Linked DNA regions of Homo sapiens. The protein of the gene in region 1 interacts with the protein of each later gene in a biochemical or structural test. Each region holds a gene or a part of one and is shown on either strand. Other genes may lie near its edges.

What was found. Proteins that work in one complex are often made in the same cells at the same time.
Region 2: of the proteins of ATF1 (region 1) and MAPKAPK3, one has a biochemical effect on the other in vitro, tested with the Homo sapiens proteins (one study listed by BioGRID).
Region 3: the proteins of ATF1 (region 1) and SPI1 form a complex in vitro, tested with the Homo sapiens proteins (one study listed by BioGRID).

What each region holds. Positions count from the first base shown.
Region 1 is NC_000012.12:50,759,957-50,767,119, reverse strand, and holds the start of ATF1 (cyclic AMP-dependent transcription factor ATF-1), read right to left. Parts: upstream 3,020-7,163; 5' UTR 2,813-3,019; intron 2,794-2,812; exon of another isoform or gene 2,716-2,793; intron 2,651-2,715; exon of another isoform or gene 2,566-2,650; intron 2,542-2,565; exon of another isoform or gene 2,196-2,541; coding exon of another isoform or gene 2,128-2,195; intron 1,070-2,127; exon of another isoform or gene 973-1,069; intron 432-972; exon of another isoform or gene 1-431.
Region 2 is NC_000003.12:50,612,980-50,620,170, reverse strand, and holds the start of MAPKAPK3 (MAP kinase-activated protein kinase 3), read right to left. Parts: upstream 3,021-7,191; 5' UTR 2,930-3,020; intron 2,658-2,929; 5' UTR 2,606-2,657; coding exon 2,387-2,605; intron 1-2,386. UniProt on the Homo sapiens protein: Stress-activated serine/threonine-protein kinase involved in cytokines production, endocytosis, cell migration, chromatin remodeling and transcriptional regulation.
Region 3 is NC_000011.10:47,375,528-47,382,517, forward strand, and holds the start of SPI1 (transcription factor PU.1), read right to left. Parts: upstream 3,021-6,990; 5' UTR 2,827-3,020; coding exon 2,782-2,826; intron 206-2,781; coding exon of another isoform or gene 203-205; coding exon 106-202; intron 1-105. UniProt on the Homo sapiens protein: Pioneer transcription factor, which controls hematopoietic cell fate by decompacting stem cell heterochromatin and allowing other transcription factors to enter otherwise inaccessible genomic sites.

The DNA of each region.
Region 1 (7,163 bases):
TTCCCTTAGTGGTCCTAGTGTTCAAGCTTGCAGCATCATTGCCCTGGGGGCCAAGCCGTATCATAAAGGAAAATTATGTTTTTTCCATTCTGGCCAGAGCAAAATACGTGTGATAAAACAAAGACATTAGCCACTCCGCTTAGCACCCAATATCAAACTAGCAAGGCTTAAATTTGCCCCCAGATGGGCCTGTCATCTTTAATTCAACCTCCGACTTGGAGTTTCAACATGTGGCCTCTAGGTAAGATGGTTGCCCTGAGTAATAGAAAAAATAAGAAACGCAAAGTAGATAAGAAAAGTATTGCCTGTGGCAGGGTGGGGAAGCTGAAGAGCTTAGGGAGGCCAGAGAAAAGACCCACTCATTGCAGCCGACAATGAAAACCTCAGGCAGCCGCTTGTACGCAGCAAAGGGACCTTTTCCAGCAGTCCCATCAGCTCTCAAGATTCCCCTTTTATGGGGGGAGGGGGGAGGGATAGCATTGGGAGATATACCTAATGCTAGATGACGAGTTAGTGGGTGAAGTGCACCAGCATGGCACATGTATACATATGTAACTAACCTGCAAAATGTGCACATGTACCCTAAAACTTAAATTAAAAAAAAAAAAGACTCCCCTTTTAGAGAGGAAAAAGCTCCCCATGTCCCACGATCCTGTTCATGCCTAACTCTGTCACCCACAGCCATCAGCAAAGAGCGCAAGGCAGATTAATCCAAAGAGAACAGCAGTTAATATCCCATAGTGCCAAACCTGTTCTTAGCTGAGAGGGAGTTACCTGAGAGGGACTCTAACTCCCTATATCTTAGAAGGGCCTCCAACCCAAGGTCAGTCAAGCTTAAGCGTCCTTGCCTTTTATTAAGAGGGGCCTCGAACCCACTGTCTTAGGAGAGACTCCTAAACATAAATACTGGGTTTCCGCAGTATAGTCGCTTCTGTGGCCACCACAAATACGTTACAGGACCCCAACACTTACCCAAAGGTAGCCGTTGGGTCAGGGTTTCTGCACTATAGTCCCTTTGTGGTCGCCAGAAATATGTTACAGGACAGGCGTCCTGATCCAGGCCCCAACTGAGGGTTCTTGGATCTCGCGCAAGAAATAATTCAGGGCAAGTCCACAGTGCGATGTAAAAGTAACATTATGAAGAAAGTAAAGGAATAAAAAGAACGGCTACTCCATAGACAGAGCAGCCCCAAGGGCTGCTGGTTACCCCTTTTTACTGTTATTTCTCAATGATAGGCTAAACAAGGGGTGGATTAATCACGCCTCCCCTTTTTAGACCATATAGGGTAACTTCCTGACATTGCCATGGGATTTGTAAATGGCGCTGATGGGAGTGTAGCAGTGAGGATGACCAGGGGTCACTCTTGTGGCCATTTCAGTTTTGGCCGGCTTCTTTACTGCAACCTGTTTTATCAGCAAGGTCTTCATGACCTGTATTTTGTGCTGACTTGTCTCATCCTGTGACTTAGAATGCCTTAACTGTCTGGGAATGCAGCCCAGTAGGTTTCAGCCTCATTTTACCCAGCTCCTGTTTAAGATGGAGTTGTTCTAGTTCACACGCCTCTGACACCATCTCTATTTAAAAACAAACAAACAAACAAACAAAACAAAACAAAAACTGGCAAAGATAGCACACCCTATATTTAAAGTCAGAAGGGACTGCCACCTGCTGGTGATCGGGTAGGAATGGACAGATAGCTCACAGACCAAACCTAACCCTAAAAGATAACGGCAAGTATTAAAGAGCTAATACATTCGACTTTAGGGCAACAGTATTGATTCTAATTAAGACACGGAGATAACTGCATATGATAAACTCCAAGAAAAAAGAGCATTTTAGAAGAACGCATTTCTGTTAACAAAAACCTCAGGTTAAAATGCATTCTGAGACATAAATGCCTACGAACTCATCACAGGTGAGGCCAGTTTGACAAAGATGCCTGCCAGATCCACGCCGAGCTTCTGAACCCTAAAGGTTCTCAAAGACTACCAGTTGCCCAATCTCTTCAAAACACTAGCGCCACAACCAGACATTATTTCACATTGCAATCATTTCAAAGCGATTCAGCCGCCAGCTGCACGGCGTCGATCAAAGTGAGAAATGCCAGGCTTCGTTTTTTGACATACAAGATCAAAGAGAAAGTCACCCTCGGCTGGGTCGCCCATCCCAAAGGGTACAGACGCCCTTGTGTCATTCCTAGCCAGGGGTAAAGCCGCCTACTGTCCCCACTCTGTCTCCGCTGCCAGGCGCATCTCTCCAGGACTGTCTGGGGCGTGCGCAATGCCCGTGCGTCGGTTGCCCGCTAGACTGCAAGCTCCAGGAGGGTAAGGGGCGCGCCTCTTCCCTCAGGGTCGCCAGCGCCGACGCGCTTCGAGGACCCTGTCGCGGGGTTAACCAGACCCGGGCTCCGCTCGGCGGACACCGCGCCGAGGCCATATCCGCGCCGCCCTCCGCCCGGCTCCGGGCCCAACCTCGAGACCTCCCACGGAGAGCTAGCGCCTGCGACTGCAAAGGGCGGCTTCTGAGGCGAAAGCCACCCCGCGGCGGGCGGTTTCGGGCTTTACTTTTATTTGGGGGCGAGGGAAAGGAGGAGACGCACGACTGGAAGGGCGCAGCGCAGCTCTGCACCGAGGCGCGGAGGCCGGAAGCGCGGGCGGCCCCTCCCCCTGCCGCTGCGCCCCTCCCCCACCGCCACCACCGCGCGCGACCCCCACCAGGCGCGCGACCCGCGCTGCGTCCCCGCCGGCGCCACGTTCCCGCGTCCTTCCCCGCCCGGGCCACGGGGCACGTCCCTCCCCGCCCCCCACTTACCTGTGGCTGCCGCCTCGCCGCTCTCCGGGGCGGGAACTTCCACTCCCCCCTCCCAGGTAGATCCGAATTCACTACCCACTTCCCCACCCCCTCACGCAGCGGGGGACAAGCCTCCTTCTCGGGGGTCAGGCGGGGCGGGGAGAATCAGTGTCACTTAACAGCCAACTGTCCTAAGCTACCGTTTCCTCGGCAGTCAGGGCCGCTACTGGCGGCATGATCTACACAAGCCTGGGGGCGGGGGCGGGGGCGGGGGAGGGGAGGGGGGCAAAACTGAGCACTAGTGTGCGTTTGGGGTAGGCTATGGCGCTGCCTCCGCGCGGGCCGCCGTCCTGCGTCACCGCGCTGCCCACGTGACGCGCCGCCATCTTGTACGCGGTCCTGACTTGTGGCTAGGGGTTCCTCGGAACGCGTTCCTCAGGCTGCAGCGGGAGAGGGACGGTGCCTGCGGTTCCGTTTCTCCTTAGGAGCTGTACCCCACCCGCCCTACGTCCGCTTCCGGAGGCCATGAGCAGCTGGGTGCTCGCGGGGGGCGTTTTCATCGATTAGTGGCGGCGCTGTCAACTCACCTGCCAATTGACCTTGACCGACGCCGGCCCTGTCCTCTTGGAAGGAGAAATGAAGAGTGAAGGCTTTGACTTCCTCAGCTTTTTTTTTTTTTTTTTTTTTTTAGATGGAGTCTCTTTTTTTTTTCCGAGATTGAGACGGGGGTCTGTGGCCCAGGCTGTAGTGCAGTGGTTCGATCTCGACTCACTGCAGCCTCCAACCCCGGGATTCAAGCGATTCTCCAACCTCAGCCTATGGGGCAGCTGGGACCACAGGCGCGCGCTACCACGCTCGGCTTGAAGAGATGAGGACTCTATGTTGCTCAGGCTGGTCTTGAACTCCTGGGCTCAAGTGATCCTCCGCCTCGGCCTCTCAAAGTTCTGGGATTACAGGCGTGAGCCACCGTGCCCGGCCTTACTCAGATTTTTCTTAATCCCATAAAGTAACAATGAGTTGTGTCCTTTAACCCATGTGGAAGGATTTTCTACAGAAACGGATTTACAATGAGACATAACGATGTGGCCGGGCGCGGTGGCTCATGCCTGTAATCCCAGCACTTTGGGAGGCCCAGGAGGGCGGATCACCTGAGATCGGGAGTTCGAAACCAGCCTGACCAACATGGAGAAACCCCGTCTCTACTAAAAAATACAAAAGTAGCCGGGTGTGGTGGCGAATGCCTGTAATCCAAGCTACTTGGGAGGCTGAGGCAGGAGAATCGCTTGAACCCGGGAGGCGGAGGTTGCGGTGAGCCGAGATCGCACCGTTGCACTCCAGCCTGGGCAACAAGAGCAAAACTGTCTCAAAAAAAAAGAAAAAAGAAACGTAACAGAGTGTTAATAAAATGTTATGCCGTCATTTTAATGCATTACAAAAACTTCAGAATATTTTTGGGTCTACCTCTCTGGAAGGGAGTTATGCCTTATTCTTAATTTTTAAAATTTCCTTGTAAAATGCTGTTTTATGGCTTTAATGATAGTAAACGACAAAAGATAAACTTTTTTAGTATGCTCTTGACAAAAGTTCCGAAAGTTTTCTGAAATTTTACTAGTTTGAGATCCCCAATTTAGGAAACCGATTTAGTGGAGAGAGCTTTGCCTATTTTTGGCCCTTTGGGTCGGAGAATGTGATATAAAGCCGAAGATTTACTCTGCCAGACAGTCTTAAGAGGTCACTAACGTTTAGCTATTGACATTCAGCAAAAATTGTGGATTACCTATTAAATGCTAGACCAGGGGACAACTGTTATTAAGTCAGTGTTTCAGCATTACTGAAAGAAAAGTGGCCTATAAAGGTAAGGGAGAGGAAGAGTTTCTCAGATACCAGCCTTCGATGATTAACAAAGTCCAGCCTCAATCATTCTGGAATCCAGAATATTGATGGCTGGAAGGCTGGTTGTACAAGTTTATTGTTCTTTGGTGTTTGGTTTTTTCTTCCGTGGACCACAGAATGCTTAACAAAAGTTGATCAGTAAAAAGCGGGGGAGGGGCTAGGCGTCGTGGTTCATGACTGTAATTCCAGCACTTTGGGAGGTGGGGGAGGGCAGATCACCTGAGGTCAGGAGTTCGAGACCAGCCTGGCCAACATGGTGAAACCCCGTCTCTACTAAAAATACAAAAATTAGCCAGGTGTGGTGGCACACACCTGTAATCCCAGCCTCTCAGGAGGCTGAAGCATGAGAATCGCTTGAACCTGGGAGGCAGATGTTGCAGTGAGCCAAGATCACGCCACTGCACTCCAGCCTGAGCCACAGAGGGAGACTGTCTCCAAAGAAAAAAAATAAAAACCTGGAAATTTTATTGAAAAATGAAACCTTCAAAATGTGCCTTGACTACTTCTTTAGCTCCTCTTCCTTAGTGCCTTAGGTCTAAATCAAATGTTACGCTCGACCAGTCCTGGTGGCATGCGCCTGTAATCCCATCTACTGGGGAGGCTGAGGCAGGAGGATCATTTGAGCTCGGGAGTTTGAGGATACAGTGAGCTGTGATCATGCCACTGCACTCAAGCCTACATGACAGATGAGACACTGTCTCTAATTTTTTTTTTTTTTTTGAGATGGAGTCTGCCTCTGTCGCCCAGGCTGGAGTGCACTGGTGCAATCTTGGCTCGTTGCAACCTCCACCTCCCGGATTTCAGTGATTCTCCTGCCTCAGCCTCCAAGTAGCTGAGAGATTACAGGTGTGTGCCATCACAGCTGGCTAATTTTTGTAGTTTTTTAAGTAGGGACGGGGTTTCACCATGTTAGCCAGTCTTGGTCTCGAACTGCTGACCTCAAATGATCCGCCTGCTCAGCCTCACAAAGTGCTGGGATTACGAGCATGAGCCACGGCACCTAGCCTCTAAAATAATTTTTTTTAAAATTGTTTAAAAAACAACTCAGGCCGGGCACGGTGGCTTACGCATGTAATCCCAGCACTTTGGAGGGCGCGGTGGGTGGATCACCTGAGGTCAGGAGTTCGAGACCAGCCTGGCAAATATGACGAAACTCCGTCTCTACTGAAAATACAAAAGTTAGCCAGACGTGATGGCGTGAGCCTACAGTCCCAGCTACTCGGGAGGCTGAGACAGGAGAATCGCTTGAACCCAGGAGGCGGAATTTGTGGTGAGCCGAGATCGTGCCACTGCACTCCAGGCTGGGCAACAGTGAGACTCCATCTCAAAAAAAAAAAACAAAAACAAAAAACCACGACTCAGTTGACAGAGGAAAAGAAGAAAAAAAGTTATGCTTGTTCAACACTGCCCCTCAAAAATACTTCTGCTTTTCTTGTCTCTTTCTCATTGAAGTATCATAAACTGTGCCTACCAGTCTTCTGAACTGTGATAACTAGATGAAAAAAAAAAAGAGGTCTTGGTTCTGATGCATGCAGTTTATCTGAATAGTAAGTTTCATAAATCAGATGGACAGATCTTTAATATTAGAAGCAAGGAAAGTGAAACAAAGAAACTTAGAGCCATGGCCGGGCAGGGTGGCTCACGTCCTCCGTAATCCCAGCACTTTGGGAGGCCAAGGTGGGTGGATCACTTGAGGTCAGGAATTCAAGACCAGTATGGCAAAACCCTGCCTCTACCAAAAATACAAAAAATTAGCTGAGCGTGGTGGAGCACACCTGTGGTCCCAGCTACTTGGGAGGCTGCGGCAGGAGAATCCCTTGAACCCAGGAGGTGAAGGTTGCAGTAAGTCGAGATCGTGCCACTGCACTCTAGACTGGGTGACAGAGCAAGACTCCACCTCAAAAAAAAAAAAAGAAAAAGAAAAAGAAACTTAGAGCCGAAAGTAATTTTTTTTTTTTTTTTGAGACAGAGTCTTGCTCTGTCGCCCAGGCTGGAGTGCAGTGGGGGTATCTTGGCTCACTGCAACCTCTGCCTCCTGGGTTCAAGGGATTCTCCTGCCTCAGCCTCCTGAGTAGCTGGGATTACAGGCGCCTACCACTACGTCTGGCTAATTTTTGTATTTTTAGTAGAGATGGGGTTTCACCATGTTAGGCTGGTCTCGAACTCCTGACCTAAGGTGATCCGCCCGCCTCAGCCTCCCAAAGTGCTGGGATTACAGGTGTGAGCCACCGTGTCTGGCCAAAAGTAATTGTTTTTTTTAAAATAAACTGGGCAAGCCTGTGGTAGCACCACTTTGGCTCTTCTGGCACACTTTTTTGTTGTTAGAAAAGAGAGATGTGGCCAGGCATTGGCTCACACCTGTAATCCCAGCACCTTGGGAGGCCGAGGCGGGTGGATACCTGAGGTCAGGAGTTTGAGACTAGCCTGGACAACATGGTGAAACTCCGTCTCTACTGAAAATACAAAAATTAGCCAGGCG
Region 2 (7,191 bases), on another chromosome or scaffold:
GTGGCCACAGCTACCACTCACAAGACAGGTAAAATAACTGTACCAGAGGTTGTGCTTAGCCCAATATTGGGAGATAGTAAATGCCTGCTTAGCTGGGTAAGGACTTCTAGGCTTGGTCACTAGTGATACTAAGAACAGGAAGGTCCTGGAGTGGGAGCCACATCTAATCCATGTCCCCTTTGAGGGCCAATTTAGGGCCAGATCCTGAAGGTCCCAAGCTAGTAGCCTTAGCCATGCTCACCCATAAAGGGGTACAGAGGGAAATCCACTCCAGGCCTGACCCAATTCCCAGTCCAGAACAAGGAGAGCACTGATGAGGTGCTGTGGAAGTTCTTGCAGTCAGAAGTTACCCCAAGTCACTCATCAGACATAGCATCTATGGGGAAGGGGTTAAGTCCAGTCTTACTTAAAGCTGGCACTGTGTGGGCCTACAAATTCTGGTCTCCCACCCCATCCCTGACTCACCCACAGCATCTGGACACCACAGGGGCTGGTCAGAGCTCAGTCTTGGCCCACAGGGTCAAAGCCTTGGTATTAAGAAGTGGGTCTCTGGCCTCAATCCCTCACCCACCCAGCCTGCCCTCAATCCTAGCACAGGTGGAAGGTTAAATAGTGCCCAGAGGGGGATGAAAACTCTCATTCCTCATCCTCTTACCCCCGTCTGCCCTCAGAAGAGCCACTTTTTCCCTAAAAGACTCAGAGAATCCCATTCCTGATACTCTGAAAAGCTCCCCGACCCCATTCGACTGCTGGGTTAGTGGGCAAAGAAGCTATACCTGGGGCCCAGCCCCACCAGCCCAACCCTGATCCTCTCCTAGACCCACCCGCATGTTCCCCTCCAAGGTACTCCGGGGAGACAACCTCCTCTGTTGGCCCTAGTGGTCCTGGGAAAGACACAGAGAGCTGGGTCCAGCTCCCTGCTCAGATGCTTTAAGACCTTGTGCCTTAAATAAGTCCTGTAACCTCTCCAGACCTGTATCAGGTCCTGTACCAAGTGCTTTAAATGTATAATCTCATTTCATGTTCACAACAACTCCTTATCTTTCCCCATGAATAGATGCAGAAACCTGGCTTCCAGAGTCTAGGATATCATCCAAGGTCATGAAACTGGCAAACACAGGATAGCTATTAGCCATATCTAGAGGACTCTGCACTTGGACTCATAATTAAAACTTGTGTAAAGGCCGGGCACGGTGGCTCACGCCTGTAATCCCAGCACTTTGGGAGGCCAAGGCAGGCAGATCACGAGGTCAAGAGATCGAGACCATCCTGGCCAACATGGTGAAACCCTGTCTCTACTAAAAATACAAAAAATTAGCTGGGCGTGGTGGCGCACGCCTGTAGTCCCAGCTACTCAGGAGGCTGAGGCAGTAAAATCGCTTGAACCTGGGAGGTGGAGGTTGCAGTGAGCTGAGATTGTGCCACTGCACTCCAGCCTGGCGACAGAGTGAGACTCTGCCTCAAAAAAAAAAAATCTTTTGTAAAATGAGAAGGGCCTTTGCTGTACTTCTAGCCTCCAGGAGCCACTATCCCTGCCATGCTCTACCCATCCATTGGCACAAGCTACAAATGAGTAAAGACCCCAGAGATGACAGATTCAAGGGATTCTGGGTATGGGGTGTGGCCCTAGGCCCAGAACTGTATGCCTTAAGCTGGAACCAGGTACCCGCCCCCAGCATCCCCCTGACCCCCACCATGCCACCTATATCAGCATGCCAGGTCTCCAGGGAGCCTATAGTCTGAGGTGGCTAGATGGCTGGCCCGCCCTCTGCCCAGGAACCAGGGGTGGGTTGGCCCAGGGCCTGTCCCTTTCAACACGGGACCAGCGACTCGTCAGGAGTCTATCAGCAGCCTCCTGAGGCTCCACAGGTGCAGTGGGCATCAGCCTTGTCCTCTGGCCAGCCCTGGGAGGCTCACACCACTCCAGCCCAGACAGGCAGGGGCCACAGGGAAGAAGCAGTCCCACCCAAGCCTTGGTGGGGTCTCAGCTTCCAGCAAAGGGAAACAGATCCATTCCAGTCAGAGGAGCTTCACATGGAAGGGGCAGCCAAGCTGAACAAGAGATCCCCTTTGGGCCTGAACACATGGGTCCAGCCAGAATCCCAGAGTCAGGAGTCACCCCTTCCCTGCTTCCGGATACAGCATCTCTAGCCATAGTGACTCCACCCCTTGCTCACTGGGACACTCAAAGCTTAGCTAGGCTACGCCTCAGTTTCCCCATCTGTGAAGTAGGGAGGACCACAAGCCTGACCTTACAGGACAGTATGACGATGAAACATGTTGCTGAGCATAGGAAGCTTAGCAGGGGCGCTAGACATAGCTTCACTCACAGGCTTCCGCTGTGGACCCTCCAGGATACCCCAGGCCTCAGTGAGGGCTCACTGACCTTCAGGGCACACTTCTGTCCAGTGCGCCGATGGAAGCACTCCAGCACTTTGCCGTTCACACCCAGGCCCAGCACCTGCTTGGACAACTGGTAGTCGTCGGTCACTGCGTACTTCTTGGGCTCCCGCCGCCCCCCCGGAGCACCGCCCAAGCCGGGTCCGCCGGGTGCAACTGGCGGGGGCACAGGGCCCCCCTGCTCCTCTGCTGTTTCACCATCCATGGCCCCCGCGGGGCGCTCAGAGGCGGCCCCAGCCTGGCGCTTCTAGTGGCACCTGGGGGAAAGGGGAAGAGTGAGTCCCGCCCAGACTTTTCCAACACACCCCAGCCTTGGAGCCTCTGAACTGGGCTGGGCTGCGAGCCCGGGGCAAGCTGGGAGTGCGGGACGAACGGCCTGAGAGTACAGACGTGCAGCAAGGGGCGGTGGTCGCGCGGCGGGGTACAAGCGAGCACCGCCCGGGCACGTGTCAAGAAGGGAAGGGGCCGGGCGCCTAATGGCCGCGAGGTCCCCGGAGGAGGCCGCAGAGGGGGCCCAGCGAGGGCGTACCTGGCGGCAACGCACCTTGCTGAGGTACCGGCGAGGGGCAGGAGAGGCGGTCGCGGGAGCTGGCGGCCGCAGAAATCCCAGGGCCGAGAGTCGCGCTGCCGGCGCCCACGTGACCTCCCCCCCCTCCCCACCCCCCCCTCCCCCACTCCCCCACTCCACCCCCCGCTCCCTGCGCGTCATCCCAACTTGGGGCCCCGCTAGGTCAGCCTTAAAGGGCCAGGCGGGCCCCGGCTGGGTCCCGCCCCCGAGCCGGAACAAAATAGGAGGCGTGGCTTCCCGAGGGGGCGGTTACTTCCTCGGTTTCCAGGGACACCCAGGGAGGCCCCTGTACTGGCAGTCCGCTACTGTGCGGGTCCCGGGTTTTACTCGCAACCTAGAACGTGACAGCGCAGGACGTCTTATTTCTCTTGAAAGCTCTCCTTGAGTCGGGTGTTTGCTCTGCACGCTGCCAGGTGGCCCTCCAGTATGGCTTGCTAGGCTTCCGACTTGCCTAGTGTTGGCCAACCCTCAGCGTACTCAACTTTTTAAACATGCCGAGGGAGGTGGCATCTTGTCGTTGTTGAATTCGCCACTCTTTAGTCTCTGGTGGCTCTGGGAGTCTCCAGCACTGGCGACTGCCCCCTTTTTGCAGCTCCCGCTTATGCCCTTGACTCGCTGCTTCCCTTTGGTATATACAGCATCCTGGGGACCAGAAATCCCGAGTTGCCATTTGATCAGATCCGCCAACATTTCACCTTATGGTTTGGGCTTTTGGCGTCGTGTTTAAAAAGTCTCTGTCTCCCATCCGAGTGACAGATATTCTCCATTAGCTTTCTAGTTTTGCCTTGCACATATAAGTCTCTGTTAAGCCCATCTTAGACTACCTTACGTATTTTGAGCCAGTTTTCCCAACACCGGCTGTTAAGCAACTCTCATTTCACAGATGAGGAAACTGGGACCCCTGGGGAGAAAACAACTTGTCTAGAGCCATAGGGAGGGTGGCTGTGGCTGTCTTCTGGGACAGATCTGAACTACTTGCGCACATCACATCACTCCCCCAATCCGGAAGCTGAGGGACCTGAGCGAGCTGGCTCACTTGGAACTGGGAAGGTGCGGCTCAGCGCAGGGGCTCTGCATGGGCCTCTGCTGTCATCTACAGGCCATCTACAGGACTGCAGGTACCAGGACCTCGGTTCCACTCAGAGGCGTCTTCCAGCCATCCTACTCTTGGCTCCGGAATTTAGGCCCAGTGAGCGCCTCCCCCTCAGCCCCTCTGGTTAACACACGCACACTCACGGACCCCTGGGCTGCATGTGCAGGCTCATCAGAGAAGTAGCTCTTGGAAAGATGATCTTCTGTCAATGAATGAGTGAATGAGTGACTGAAAGGGTGCTACAACTTATTAGTGGGTACCCACTGTGTGCAGATGTTGAGTGGAGATGGGGTTGGGGCTCTGCCCCTATTTCTTTCAGGCAACCTTCAAGCTAGCAGTGTTCAGTGAAGCAGGAGGCTCCAGACAATAGCCTCAGCTGGCCATAGTGAACACTTCTTGCAGACCAGATGCTGGGAATGTGCTCTCCCTGCAACCCCCTGACCTTACAGAGCCTAGAGGAGGTCACACTATCCCTTCTGCCCCACACTACAGACACACAGGACAGAAAAGCCCAGAGAGGTTAAGTGACCTGTCTGAGGTCAGCAGCTGTCATGACAGAGCCCCCATTCCAACTCCAAAGCACAACCTCAGGGCTGGGCTCTTATCCTCAAACCATGGCCTCCTCTCCTAGTCCTTTCTGGCTCCTCACACAGCCACATGTGCAAACATACTCTCACACATGTACACATGCAGTCACACCTTTACACATGTGCACACACATGCATATAACACGTATAAACACACATGCATATAACACACATGCACACAGATACACATGCACATGTGCACACACACATGCATTTATGCCCAGCTGGACCCAGGATTGATGTCCCTGAGCCCAACCTGAGAATCTGATTCAAGATCTCAGAGCCTCTTTGAAAGCCCTATGATCTGGAATCTTCTACTGCTGGGGGGAGCCAAAGAAGGCTCTCTGCTCTCTGAAGGCAACTAGTTTGAGCCTGGTGAACCTGAGGCTGAGCAAGATGTCATTCTGGTGAGCAGAAGGCTAGGCAGCTGAGGGTGGAGGCTGGCTCCTTGCCCCAGCCAAAGGCATCCCACTGAATGTTCTGTGAAGATGTCTTCTTTCTTTAAAATGGAATTAGATTATAATTGCTCTACAAATTTTATAATTGTATTTTTTAAGCTGGTCTCTTTTATTAAAATTTTAAGTTGCATAAGTAAAACTTCCTCATTGTAATTAATTCAAATTATACAGAAGTATGAAAAGTAAGGCAAAGGTGCTGCTTCTCCCCTCCCAGTCCCTATAACCAGTGTCCATGCTTCCACAGGCACACGCATTCCCCACATGGGTCCATCGGAGAGATGCCTTGAAACTACTCACTTAGCCCAGGAAAGTCAGAATATGTGGTTTCCCTTAGTGCTCATGTTCCAGCAACCACCTGCAGCATCCCCTCCACAATGATGGGAGGATTTGGCATGCAGGATGGCTAGGTCTGGTCAGGAGTGGGTTCATGATGGCAGACTCTGCCACACAGCCCTTCATGTAGCTGTGTGTCCAAGGGGACAGAGACTTTGGAATAGCTTAAAGTGAGGGGGGCTAAATCCTACACACACACACACACACACACACACACACACACACACACACTCTGTCCTTACTGGAGAGGGGAGGCTGTACATGGTGAGAGGATGGAGGCCAAATGAGCGAGACTTTTGGGAAGGCACTGCTGTGTATTCTTGTGATTCATCTTGTGATTGTTCTGGGTAGGGAGTGGCAGGGGAATCTTGCAGTAAGTTCAATCCCTGGGGTGCAGGAGAGGGATTATCCTAGAAGAGAAGAATCTATGGAAATTTGGCTAGTGAGGGCATGAGAGGGGGCACCGCTAGGTGGCAGTGTGGGCCCAGCAATCAGAGCCAGGGTTTCTAGGGAGCAGCCAGGGCAGGAGAATTAAGTACTAAGTTGGCCAGAGGGACCCAACTTAGTACTTGGGGCAGAACAGGGGCACATCACTGTTCCCAGCATGCAGGTGAGGTGCACAGTGCTGTCATATTCACACACACACAAAAATAGTTGGAAGGCCAAAACCCTTGGAACCCTTTGGTTTACACATAGACTGCATAATCACTGACCTGTAGGAGATACTTTCAAAGGGACACCCATGGTGCTCTGACATGGACAGGCCTGGGGGCAGAGAAGCTTCACTGAGGACCTTAAAGCTGGATGTCTAGGAGTCGGCAGATCACCAGCACCCATAGAGGAAGTAGGAGGAAGTGTGTAGGCTCCTGGCTTAAACCATTACTTGCCAGCTGGGAGATCTAAGTTATATTGTAACCTCTCCATGCCTCAGTTTTCTCACCTGTAAAGAGGAGATAATATGTGGTAGTTGTGACAATGACATGAGGCTGCAAATTGCTGAGAGTGCTTGACACATAGTAAGTGTTCAGTTGAATAGTCATGGTGAGGGGGAAGAAGTATAGTTTTGGTAGAGAGCTTGGGATTTGGCCCCATAAGAGACCCAAGTTCAAAATTGTAACTCTGTTGCCTGGCAGCGGCAAAGTCCTTTTGTCTTCATAGTAATGAGACAGTGGACAGTTCCTACTGGCAAGTCAGTGGTCCACACAGGGGCCGCATATCAGGCTATCCAGGTATCCCAGCCCTCAAAGTGGGTTATAAGGTATCCATCCCCCCTACCCCCATTCCAAGAAAGTGGCTTCTGGCCAACTCAGGAGGGGGCTGGCAGAGTTGCACTCATGAAGCCCGGCTTCCCTTCAGGAAAGCTACAGAGAAGTGACTGCCCTGAAATCTGAAACTTAACGTTTTTTCCCCAGTTTCACAGGGTTTTGCTTTCAGGTTTCTTTTGCCCTCTGCCATTCTGGGCAGAGCAAACTGAGCCCTGTCTTCCCTGGATGCTATCGTTCAGGCCCTTCAACAAGGCCAGGGGTCTGTCATCCCTGCCCAGGATCTCAGAGCTAGACTCCTTTCTGGGGACCCTGGGGGCACACACTGGGAGGGGGATGGGGGTGGGGAGTGGACCCTGCAACCTCTCCAAATCCCACAGTTCTTCTGGCCCAAGGGTTTGGAGGAGATTCACAGACCCTACAGTCCTTCAAGATGCTCCATAGTGAATCCAGTGAACTGAAAAAAGGTGGAGAGGGTCCTGGTAGGAGC
Region 3 (6,990 bases), on another chromosome or scaffold:
AGAATTCCAAAGAAGTCCTGGGAATCATTTATTCTTTTTCTCTCTCCAGACCCCAGGAGCCCAGGCTGGGCTGGGGGATGGGGGCGTGGCAGGCCCCGTACTCACCGCTATGGCTCTCCCCATCACTGCTGAGATAGGGGTAATACTCGTGCGTTTGGCGTTGGTATAGATCCGTGTCATAGGGCACCAGGTCTTCTGATGGCTGCTGAGAGAGGAGGTGTCAGGGCCTGCACCATGGTGGGAGACCCCAGCCAGGCCTGCAGCACCCCCGCACGCTGGGTCCCCATCACCTTCCCTGGCTCAGTGGCTGCGTTGGACCTACAGCCCTCCCTCTGCCTGGAACTGGGACAGAGAGTGGGGCAGGGGACCCAGAAGGCCTGAAAAGGGGTGACAGGGACCTTGGGGGTGAGAGGTCAGAAGAGGACCAGGGTCCCCCTCTGCTGGGCTACTCCCCATAGCCACCTCACGCTCACACTCACACTCACGCCTGTGTGCCCCCATCCTCATCCCACACACCTCTCCTGGTCACACTGATGCACATGTCCACACGATCCCTGTGTCACCCTCACACTCATAATCCCACACGAGGACTCACTCTCACAGCCCCTACCCACCCCCATGCAGGCGCCTGCACACTATCCCTCACACACACATCTTCATACCCACTCAGAGGTCACCCACCTCACAGAGACATTGTACACTCAGCTCATGCACACACGCAGAGTCTCCTTGATTGACACTCACATGACACCACGTTCCAGCCATCAACACACACACTCACACCCCCAGAGCCACTCACATTCCACCTGCACACTCAACCGCACAGCACACACTTGCCTGCCCAGCCCCACTCTCACAGCCTATGCCTCTCACACAGCCTGGGCAAGAGTGGCACCACAATGACCCTCCACACTGACGGTTGGTGCAGGGGTCACCCAGGCAGACTTAGGGGCCGAGCGCATGGAGGGCCTTGATCCCCTCACTCTCCCTCCTGAGTCCTCCCTATCCTCCTCCTTCCCTCCTCACTGCATCCCCCTCCCCGTCTCCTTTGCTTCCTCCTCCCCCTCCTCACTCCCCTCTGTCCTCCTTTTCTTCCCCCTCTTCCCTGTCCTCCTTCTTTCCTCCCACCTTCCTCCCTCCTCCCTGTCCTCCTCCCCCTACTGGCACAGACACAGGGCCGTGCACACCCAGGAGCCTTCCCAACAGTCATCAGGCCTCCCCGCCCCCGCAGCGTGTGGCCCAGGATTGCATAACAGTCACTGTGGCCCTTAGGGCTGGGCTTGGGGGACCGGGGCTGCCTTGGGAGCCCACCCTACCAGGAGACACTCAGAGTGACCCTGGAGCTTGCAGAGAGGGCTGGGGGTGCCTAGGGATGGCCCAAGGAGCTCTGCCACCCATCTAGCTCCACCTGGAGTTCAGAATTGAGAGGTCAGGGATCAGAGACAGTGGGCCTGTGGCTTTCTTGAGGCAGAATTGGCTCTTTCTGAGACAACCTCCGTCACCCTCTGCCTGGGCCGCCCACTTCGTGTTCCCAGGTGGGAAGGGGTGTCGGTGTGGATGCCACAGCAGGCTGGCTGGTCCTGCCTGGTCCTGCCTGTGGCTGGCCAAGTGAGGAGGCCAGGAGCCCAGCACTGAGCCTGCCCCTCTGGGTTTCCAGGTAGTACAGCCTCGCTGCAGGATGTCAGCCCGGCTCTGGTCGGGTTGGTGTGATGTCAGGCCTGGGGTGCCTCCCAGCCTCCTGGGGTGGCTCTGAGCCAGGGCATAGTGGGGGAAGGGAGCTGCCTCTAGACCAGGAAAGTGGATTCAGGTGGGCAGCCTGCCAAGCCCTTCCCGGCTCCCCTCAAGCCTCCTCACTCCTGAGAGGTCATGGGGTGGGAAAAGGGAGAAGGGTCCTTTCCGAGGGACCCTGGTCTGACACCTGCCTAAGGCTGCAACTGTCACTGAGAGTGAGGAGCAGTGGCGATCTGCCCTTCTCTTCTCGGGGTCCCCTGGGGCTCCCACTTCTTCACCCCCAAGACCCAGTCCCTGTCCTTGTCCCAGCCTCAGCCCCCATTCTCACTTATCACATGCTCACCCCAGGTCCCACCCAGCCCCAATCTCAGTCCTGGCCTTGTCCCAGCCCTGTCCCCTGCCGCGCCTCTCCCTGAACTCCAGCCCTGGGGCCAGCCCTAACTGCACTGTCTCAGCTCCACTCCTGGCTCCTTTCCAGCACCAGTCCCTGTCTCCTGTGGGTACCCCTGTGGGCCCATGGCCCTGACCCTTTGGTCAACAATCATGTCCTCTGTGCCAGGCCCCAGACTGGGCGTTGGGGACCCAGAGTTCCATCAGCTTTGGTTTCCAGGAGCCCCAAGGCCATGGGCCAAGACTTCTGCCCATTGCCTCCTGCCTTCAACCCCTTCCCATCCAGGGGACCGGCCTCCCCCAAGCCAGTCCCCCCATCTCCCTCCTCTACCTCTCTACCACCGCCTTCACCATCCTCAGCCCAGCACCCTCCCCAGGAGCCCCGGCCTCCGCCTGCCACCCGAGCCCTGTCTATAAATAACTGTTCAGGCCCCACCGATCACAGCCCCACCGTGGGCCTGGCCTCAGCCCGCCAGGGCATGCTCCGAGGAAGCCAATGGCCCCCTCGCTGGGTCTCAGGCCAGGAGTTCCAGGGAGGAAACCCTGACTTCCCACTGATAGCAAGCCAGGAGGGCAGTGGGTGGGCTGGCGGGTTCGTGGGCAGGCAGGCAGGCGTCCGAGGGCCACGGGTTGGGCTGGTGGAGGAGTCCCGGTACTCACAGGGGGGACGAGGGGAAACCCTTCCATTTTGCACGCCTGTAACATCCAGCCGGGCTCCGAGTCGGTCAGATCCCCTGCCTCGGTGGGGGCCAATGCAGAGCCCCTCAGGATGGGGTGCCCCGTCAGGGGCTGGACGGTCGTGGGGCGGGTGCAGGGCTCAGGCCTGCCCCCTGAGCTACAGGAGCCCTGGGTGAGCCCCCTCCCTTGACATTGCAGGGCCAGCACAAGTTCCTGATTTTATCGAAGGGCCTGCCGCTGGGAGATAGTCCCCTTGGGGTGACATCACCGCCCCAACCCGTTTGCATAAATCTCTTGCGCTACATACAGGAAGTCTCTGGCCGGCTGGGGCAGGTGGTGCTCAAAGGGCTGGCCTGGGAAGCCATGGGGTCCAGGCCCCCTGCCCAGAGGAAGCTGGGACTGAGAGGGATGACTTTGGGGGCTAAGCTGGGGAGGGAGGATGGGAGGGAGAACGTGTAGCTCTGCCACACCACTGGGAGGCTTTTGCTCTAACCCAACAAATGCCTGCTTCTTTTGAGATCCCTATGTAGCCAACAGTCACCTCATTGGGGTCAGAGCTGGAAGGGGTGGCCTCTTGGGGCCTCCACTTTCTGGAGTCAGCCTTCCTGGGTGAGGGCTCTGATCTAGCAGGCTATCAGGCCTGGCTCTTCCTGTGGCCCTGCACCCCCACTGCCTAGGCTATCCCTAGGCTGAGGCTGGGCTCAGGTGTAGGGTCTTCAGCATAGTGCTGCTTTCTTCCTTCCCTCTGAATCTGTTCACATGGGCTTCCCTACCACCAGAAGAGGGTCCTGGGTTCTTATACCCTCCCCTCCCAGCTTCTTGATTACCACATTCAAATCCCTAGGGCTCTGTTTCCAGCCCAGGTTTCTCAGTTTCCCCATCCCTTGGCAATGCCTGAATATCAATCTAACCCTCCTGGTTTACAAACCTTTCTTGCCTATCCACCATTCATCTGTTTTCCCATGCATCTATTTGTCTGTCTATTTGTCCATCCAGCTATCCATTCATCAAGCCCACCATGCATTCACTTATGTGTCCATTTATCCAACTGTCCGTTTGTTTGTTCATTCATCTGTCAGTCAATTCATCCACCCACCCATCTGTTTATCTACTTGTCTATCTAACCATCTATATGTCCATTAATCAGCCCGTCCACCTGCTATCAGTCCATCAGTCCACAATTCCATCTGTTTATCCATCTATGAATCTGCTCATCCATTCATCCACCTGTCCATCCATCCACCCATCCACTCATCCACCCATCTACCCATCCACTCATCTGTCCATCAACCCATCCATCATCCACCTACCCCTTCATTCATTCATCCATCCATCCACCAGTCCACTCATCCACCCATCTACCAATCCACCCACCTACCATTCCACCCATCTATTCATCCACCTATCCATCCATTCACCTATCAGCTTCGGTTTCCAGGAGCCCCATGAGAACAGGCAGTATTTGACTTTCTGTTTCTGCGTTGTTTCGCATATGATAATGTCCTCCAATTCCATCCATGTTGCTGCAAAGACATAATTTCATTCTTTTTTATGGCTGAATAGTATTTCATTATATATATATATAAATACAATATAACATGTTATTTATTCACTCACCCGTTGATGGACACTTATGTTGATTCTGTATCTTTGCTATTATGAATAGTGCTGTGATAAACATACAAATGCAGTATCTTTTTGGTATCACTCATCCATCCAGCCATCCATTCATCCATCCATCCATTCATCCACCTATCCACCCATCTACCCATCTACCCATTTACTCATCCACCTGTCCACCAATCCAGCTATCTACCCATTCATCCATCCACTCATCCACCTATCCATCCATCCACTCATTCATCCAGCCATCCACAAATCCACCCATCCACTTATCTATCCATCCATCCATTCATCCATCCACCAATCCACTCATCCACTTATCTATCCATCCATCCATTCATCCATCCATCCATCCACTCATCCACACATCTACCGATTCACTAATCCACCCATCCACCAATCCACTCATCTACCCATCCATCTATCCATCCATCCACTCATTCATCTATCTGTCTATCCACTTATCTGTCCATCCATGCATCTTCCCAATGTTGAGTTCCAGGCTCTAAGCTGAGCGCTGGGAAAACAAAAAAGTATTATACAAGACCCCTGCCTTCAGAGAGTTCCTGATCTTTTCTGGGGGGTGGAGGGATGAGTAGAGGCATTTTTGTTTTGTTGTTGTTGTTGTTGTTGTTGTTTTTCTGGCCCAGTGATCTCTGGTGAGTCCCCTCTGCTGGGAAGGAATTTTGAACATTCAGTGTCCTCCCCTGTATAATCTAACCCCTTGCTTTAAATTCCCACTCCACTAAGACAGGCCTGCCTTCTTGCCAGTGGATTCCTAGGCCACAAGTGTTTTTTCATTAGCAGCAAACACCAGAATTTCACAGCTCTGGGCTCACCATTAGATCTACTTGACTTCCACCTTCACTGACTTTGTATCTGCACTTGGGACTCTCCAAAGGCTCCAGGCCACAGGTCCTCAGGGCTCCCTAGGAACCTGACCAAGGCCTCTCCCAAAAAGGAGGGGAGGGACAGGTTGGCTTGGCATCAGTTCCATCCTTGTTCCCACTTCCCCATCAAGAAGGCCAAGCCCCAGCTGACTGGGTGCAGTGGGGTGTAAGGTTATCCACTCCACAAGATCTAGGCCCTGCTTGATGTGTTCATTCATTCACTCGTGTGTGTTATTGTCTTGCTTTGGTTTGTTTATATGCTTATTTATTCATTCATTCATTTAATCACTTTTTTGTATAAATGTAAGGGGTACAAATGCAGTTTTGTTCCATGGATATATTGCATAATGGAGAAGTCTAGGCTTTCAGTTTATCCATCACCAGAATAGTGTACATTGTGCCCTTTAAGTAATTTCTCATCCCTCACCATGCCTCCCCACTCTCCCACCCTTGCAAGTCTCCAGTGTCTGTCATTCCACATTCTATGTCCATGTGTACACATTATTTAGCTCCTACTTATACATGAGAACAGGCAGTATTTGACTTTCTGTTTCTGCATTGTTTCGCTTATGATAATGGCCTCCAATTCCATCCATGTTGCTGCAAAGACATAATTTCATTCTTTTTTATGGCTGAATAGTATTTCATTATATATATATATATATATAAAAATATAACATTTTATTTATTCACTCATCCGTTGATGGACACTTAGGTTGATTCTGTGTCTTTGCTATTATGAATAGTGCTGTGATAAACATAAAAATGCAGTATCTTTTTGGTATAGTGATTTATTTTCCTTTGGTTAGATACTCAGTGAGATTGCTGGATCAAATGATATTTCTTTTCCTTTCTTCTTTTCTCTCTTTTTCTTTTTCTTTTGAGACTGAGTTTCGCTCTTGTTGCCCAGGCTGGAGTGCAGTGGCACAATCTTGGCTCACTTTGCCTCCCGGGTTCAAATGATTCTCCTGCCTCAGCCTCCTGAGTAGCTGGGATTACAGGCGCCCGCCACCACGCCCAGCTAATTATTGTATTTTTAGTAGAGATGGGGTTTCATCATTGTTGGCCAGGCTAGTCTCAAACTCCTGATCTCATGTGATCCACCTGCCTCGGCCTCCCAAAGTGCTGGGATTACAGACGTGAGCCACCATGCTTGGCCAGTTCTTTTTCTTTTGAGACAGAATGCCACTTTATCACTGAGGCTGGAGTGCAATGGCGTGATCTTGGCCCACTGTAGCCTGGACCTCCTGGGCTCAAGCGATCCTCCCGCCTCAGCCTCTGGAGTAGCTGGTACTATGGATGTGTGCCACCTGTAGTCTCATCTAATTTTCTGTATTTTTTGTAGAGATAGGGTTTCACCATGTTGCCCAGGCTGATCTTGAACTCCTGGGCTCAAGCAATCCACCTGCCTCAGCCTTCCCAAATGTTGGGATTATAGGTGTGAGCCACTGCATCTGGCCAAAAGGTAGTTCTGTTTTTAGTTCTTTGAGAAATCTCCATACTCTTTTCCGTAGAGGTTGTCATTTAATCACTTACTTTTTATTGAGTGTCTTCCATGGTCTGGGCCTAGTAAGGGGGATAGACATGAATGAGGCATACTCGGAGCCTCCAGCAGCTTACAGGCCTGCAGAGGGTCATGTGAGCAGATAGTGGGGCAAGAGAGGAGGTGCCAGGTACA